Regions from separate parts of the Homo sapiens genome. Here region 2 is linked to region 1. The links come from fine-mapping of genetic effects on gene expression. Tissue or cell type: sigmoid colon. Region 1 holds a variant in brackets; the other region holds the start of a gene. All regions are shown on one strand. Distances are between the middles of the regions.

Region 1 (2,680 bases):
GCTCTCCTGGCTCTGGCAGCTGGCTTGTGCCTGGGCCGAGTCAGGCCTCTGGCTTAAATAGGCAGTAGGAGCAGAGCAGGGAGGGCCTGGGGGGCGGGTGTGGAAAGTGGGCCGTTTACCTAGCACAGCAAGGCAGTGTCTGGAGCCAGCAGTGGTCCCAAGCACGCTCCTGCCTGCCTGCCTGTCCACCAGGAGGCCTCAATCCCACAGGCCCCAAGACCACAGACCAGTACCTGGGGTGACCCCTGATGGATGTGCAGCTCCACGGGAGATGTCCCTAGATGCACTGAGCTTGGTCAGTTTCCTGGATACCTCCACCTTTCCTTTGTAGCAGAACCAGCTGTGGAGATGGATGGACCTGTTCCCTGGGGCCTCTCTCCAAGCCTCAGTTGCTGCCTTCTTAAAATGAGGATAACACTGACTTCACAGGTCCAGAAATAATGTTTGCAAAGGGCACCTAGGAGGTTGATTTATTTACCCACATGGTGATACTGGGGCCAGGTACCTTCGATGAGGCTGGAGCCTAGAGGTTTAGTAATGTACCCAAAGTCACACAGCCTTCCATCTGACTGTCAGTGTCAGACCTCATGCAGACCTGGGGCCTCCCAGCCTCATGCTACAGTTGAAGTTTGGGGTGAGTGAGAGTGAAGAGCAGCTGCTCACCTTGGGGAAAAATCTTGACTGAACCCTAGTGAAGGGGTTACCTTTAAGTCCCCAGTGTTATGGGAAAGGGGTCCTGATCCAGACCTCAAGAAAGGGTTCTGGGACCTTGCACAGGAAAGAGTTCAGGGTGAGTCCACACAGTAAAGTGAAAGCAAGTTCATTAGAGAAGAAACAGAAGGATGGCTACCTCATTGACAGAGCAGCCCAGAGGGTGCTGGTTGGCTATTTTTATGGTTATTTCTTGATCGTGTGCTAAACGAGGGGTGGATTATTTATGCGTTTTCCAGGAAGGGGGTGGGCAATTCCTGAAACTGAGGGTTCCTCTCCTTTTTAGACCATATAAAACCAAGGGTGACTTCTGGAACATTGCCCTGGCATTTGTAAACTGTCACGGCGCTGGTGGGAGTGTCTTTTGGCATGC[C/T]AATGCATTATAATTAGCATATAATGAGCAGTGAGGACAACCAGGGTTGTTTTGTTCACCATCTTGCTTTTGGCAGGTTTTGGCTAGCTTCTTTACTGCATCCTATTTTCATCAGCGGAGTCTTTGTGACCTGTATCTTGTGCTGACCTCCTATCTCATCCTGTGACTAAGAATGCCTAACCTAGGCTGGATGTGGTGGCTGACGCCTGTAATCCCAGCACTTTGGAGGCTTAGGCAGGCAGATCTCTTGAGCTCAGGAATTTGAAACCAGCCTGGGTAACATGGTGAAACCCTGTCTCTAAAAAATATACAAAAACTAGCTGAGTGTGGTGGTGCATGCCTGTAGTCCCAGCTACTTGCGCTGCTGAAGTGGGAAGATCGCTGGAGCCCAGGAGTTCAAGGCTGCAGTGAGCTGTGATGGCGCCACTGCACTCCAGCTTGGGTGACAAAGTGAGACCTGTCTCAAAATAAACAAACAAAGAATAAGAATTCCTAACCTTCTGGGAATGCAGCCCAGCACGTCTCAGCCTCATTTTACCCAGCACCTATTCAAGATGGAGTTGCCCGGTTCAAACACCTCTGACAACACCACCAAGGCAAGGAGGGTGCCATGGTTGGACAGGCATGGTCAGGCAGCCTGTCTGCATTTGGGTGAGACCCTGGGGGAGAGGTGCAGAAGTATCCCAGAGTAGCTGCTAGGGATGGCTGGTGAGAGGAGCTACCCTTCAAACCTCCTAGATCTCCAAGTAACACTACAGGGTGGTGAGTGGTTGGTTCAACTTGATCTTCCAGTGAGGTGGACAGTGCCCCCACCTCAGTGAACAAAGATTAGGACATAAGCTAATGGGGAATTAAGACAAAGCTGTAGTTCGTCATTTTATGCTTGAAAAAATTCTGCCCTTAAAAGTGCAAGTAACTCTGCTAGTAAATAATTGAAGTCACATGAGGGAGTTGTCTTTAACAGGAAAGTACACATTTTGATTTTGATTAACAAAATGTTAATTCCTCATTTCCCCCAAAGAAGCAGCAAAACAGAGGGCCTGGATCTCTGTTAGTTGGACTCAGAAGGGAGATCAACTTGACTGTAGATACTGAAGAAGATGAAGTTGAAGATATGATTACATATGAAGCCCATTCATCTGCCAGTCATTAATTGTTGTGTATATTGTGGACCTGACATCCTTTCAGAAGTTTGGACTACAAAGGTGGGAGACACACTTGGAAAGACTGTGCACTTCAGAGTCCAATCTAGGTTCAAATCTGGCCCTGGGCAACACTGGGCCTTCACTTAGTCTCTCTGAGCATTGGGTTTCTACTACTTTGCAAGGCTGTTGGGAGAATTAGATGAGATGATATTGGTGACAACTCTTTGTAGGTATTCAGTGATCAGTTATCCATTTGGAAAGATAATTCTACAGGGAGCATGGGGTGGGCAGGAGGGGAGACAAGCAGGAAGGCCAGTGCAGTAGGCAAAGCAGGGAGATGGCAGGGCCAAGGCAGTGGGAAGAGAGAAGGGTCACATATCTGGGGGACATCTAAGAGGGTAGAATGGTGTTATGAACCGAATGTTTGTGTCCCCAACAAATTTATATGTTG
Region 2 (2,680 bases), 80 kb before region 1:
TGCCCAGCCTCAAGGAGAATTTTCCATTTCTGTAGTTTTGCTGCATGTAGTAGACTTTTTTTGGAAGTGATTGCAAATGAAGTTAGCAAATGTAATATAAAGAAAAGCACTGGATTAAATGTGAGAAAACTTGCATTCTAGACCTAAATCTACCTCAAACTTGATATGCTATCCAGGACTATTCCTTTAACCTCTCTTTGATCAATTTTCCTACCTGCTCTATCTCTATTTTGCTCCAGTGATCCCCATCTCAGTCAGGGTGAAAGGCAATGTCCTTGCAAGTACCTAGCAGGCATCCTCCCCTCAAATTCCTTACTGCTCTCCTCTAGCTCACCGGGCTCCAGGCACCTTGCAAGGAGCAAAGAAACGGCTTAAGGGCCTCTTTACTTTCAGGTTCTCTGCCTAGAAGTCCTCTCGATATGTGGAATACCCTGCCATTCACCTTCTGCAAGTCTTCACTCAAATGTCATTTCCTCAGTGACACTCTCACTGAAGTGGCACCACTCTTCCTGCTTTGTCTCCCCGCCTCCTTACATCCCTTATCATCATCTGACACTGAATAGACTTGTTTACTGTTTCTGTCTACCTGCATGTTAGGTCCTCACTGCTGTATCCACAGAATCTAAAAAAATACCTGGCATATCGTAGGCACGTAGTAAACACATGTTGGATGAACAACCAAATCTGTAAAATGAGGCCGTCACGCCGGATGGATCATCCATCCCCTTAAGATGAAACTGTGCTGCGACTGGGCCCAGTCTTCTTGCATTACCATCCTGAGAAGCCCAGCGACCACCTTCAGGGGCATACTCACTTTGCAGGAGCCTGCAGAGGCGGCTTCAGGTTCTCCCTCCTCGTGGACAAGGTCTAACAACTGAAAGCCCGAGTTCCCGGCGGCTTCTGGGTTCCCCGGCGTGTACTCGGACTCCTGGCCGCTCGAGGTGGTCCCCAAGGATCGGCGGCTGGAAAGCACCCGGTAGCGGCCCTCCTGCCGGACCTCCCGAGCCGAGGCGCGGAGATTACGGCGGACACGCTGCTGGCTGTCCCGTGACGGGCGCAGAACTTCCCGCAGGAGAGGCTGGACTGGTTCCTCCTAGGGGGCAACAGGGGACGGAGGCCAGCGTAAGCAGGAGTTCGCGAGCGGGTCAGGGATCGGGTTTCGTACCGGCTGCACCCGAAGATGCCCTCCACACCAGCTGCACCACGCCCAATACCTGGGAGCACACAGTGGCCACCAAGTGGAAGACATTATTCTCCGCCGCTCTCTCCAAACCCTCCGACGTCTTCTGTGCCGCTGACTCGACCGCGTCGCTCCGGAGGCGTTTACAAGCGAGCACAAGAGCCTCCGCCGGCTCCGCACTGCGCTTCCGCTTCACCCGGAGTACAGCGGTCCTGGCGGCCTCCATAGTGGCTGCCGCTGAGCACTGTGGGAGCTCGCGGGGTGTGATGGGATAGCTTTCCAGTTCTGCTTTAGGACCCGCCCCCCAGCACGCTCCTCGACGCTGCGAGGTCCCGCCCCGCGTGCTGGCCGCGGTAAAAGTGGTAGCAGCGGAGGCGAGCGGAGGGTTTCCCGCGGCGGGTGAGGCGCTGGGTATGCTGGGAAGGTGGGGTCGCTTTGGGGTTCTGTGTGCAGCGAGCATGGTGTCCTTGGCACCAGGGTTTCGGCAGAGGAGCCTAGCGTGGGCCTACTTGGACTCCTCCGCGTGGGGCAGCTCGGGACACCCGGGCCTGCAGGAGAGCGGGGTTCTAGGCTGGCCCCGGCTCTGCAGTGCAGCCGGGTGCCTGCCACTCGCGGGGCTCTGTCGCAGTACTCGTGCCTGGCGCCTCCCCTCAGCCACAGAGACCGCAGTAGCTCCAACCATCGCACCCCTAACTGGGCCACGAGTTCTCTGATTGCCAGACCTGTTGTCTTTGCCACTCACTGTTCTGAGTAATTGGAGAGTCGTGTATTCACTACACGCCAACCAGAGTGGTCCTGTAAAAGCGTAAGCCTAGTGTAGATACGCTTCTGCTTAAAACTCTTGAGTGGCTCCCAGTGCTTTTAGAACAAAATCCAAACGCCTTTCCGAAGTCGACAAGGCCCAGCTTGATTGAGCAGAAGATGTGATAGGAGATGAGGAGCGGGGGGCTTCTGCAAAAGTGCTTCGGTCGCTCAGGCTTTTGGCACATTTTGCTTATGCAACCTAGTTCTTTCTACCTTAGGGCCTTTTCTTGGGAAAGTTGGGGTAAGGATTCCTGACCTGTAAAAACTCTTCCCCAACTTTTATCCCGGTCTGTCTTGTAGATCTCAAATGCTAGTTTCCTCAGAGTCCTTCTGTAACCTTGGTTTTCTCTTTCTACAACGCTCTGTGTATTTCTTGCATTCATGTAGTCTGTAATTTGTATTACTCTCTCATTAGAGTCTAAGCTCTTGGAGGGCAAGGGTCTTCTCTAGCTTGTGGTGGTGGCTCCAGTCCCTAATATAGTGCCTGGCACATAGAAGGTATTTAATAAATTTTGTTATTTTATTTTTTCGAGACAGAGTCTCACTCTGCTGCCTAGGCTGAGTGCAGTGGTGTGATCGAGGCGCACTGCAGCCTTGACCTCCTGGGCTCAAGCGATCCTCACCTCGGCCTACCGAGTAGCTGGGACTACAGGCACGCGCCACTACACTCGGGTAATTTTTAATTTTAATATATGT

Evidence for each region. PIP is the estimated chance that this variant, and not a neighbour inherited with it, causes the effect.
Region 2: it holds the start of PRMT7, and the variant in region 1 is fine-mapped to the expression of PRMT7 in sigmoid colon (GTEx, PIP above 0.99). The same link has a PIP of 0.9 or more in esophagus muscle and tibial nerve.

The regions. Positions count from the first base shown.
Region 1 is chr16:68,389,112-68,391,791 of GRCh38, forward strand. The region is part of intron 1 of SMPD3 (sphingomyelin phosphodiesterase 3); the gene reads right to left. Among named protein-coding and RNA genes, the nearest start is that of SMPD3, 58 kb to the right of the region's middle. RefSeq lists an enhancer at 1-578 and a silencer at 1,395-1,689. The variant C/T (reference allele first, on the strand shown) is at 1,085.
Region 2 is chr16:68,309,521-68,312,200 of GRCh38, forward strand. It overlaps PRMT7 (protein arginine methyltransferase 7), which reads left to right and starts at 1,499. Exons shown (of 19, transcript NM_019023.5): 1 at 1,499-1,579; 2 at 2,522-2,656. SLC7A6OS (solute carrier family 7 member 6 opposite strand) reads right to left here and starts at 1,426. Exons shown (of 5, transcript NM_032178.3): 1 at 1,215-1,426; 2 at 815-1,093. The coding sequence starts at 1,406. RefSeq lists an enhancer at 431-1,395.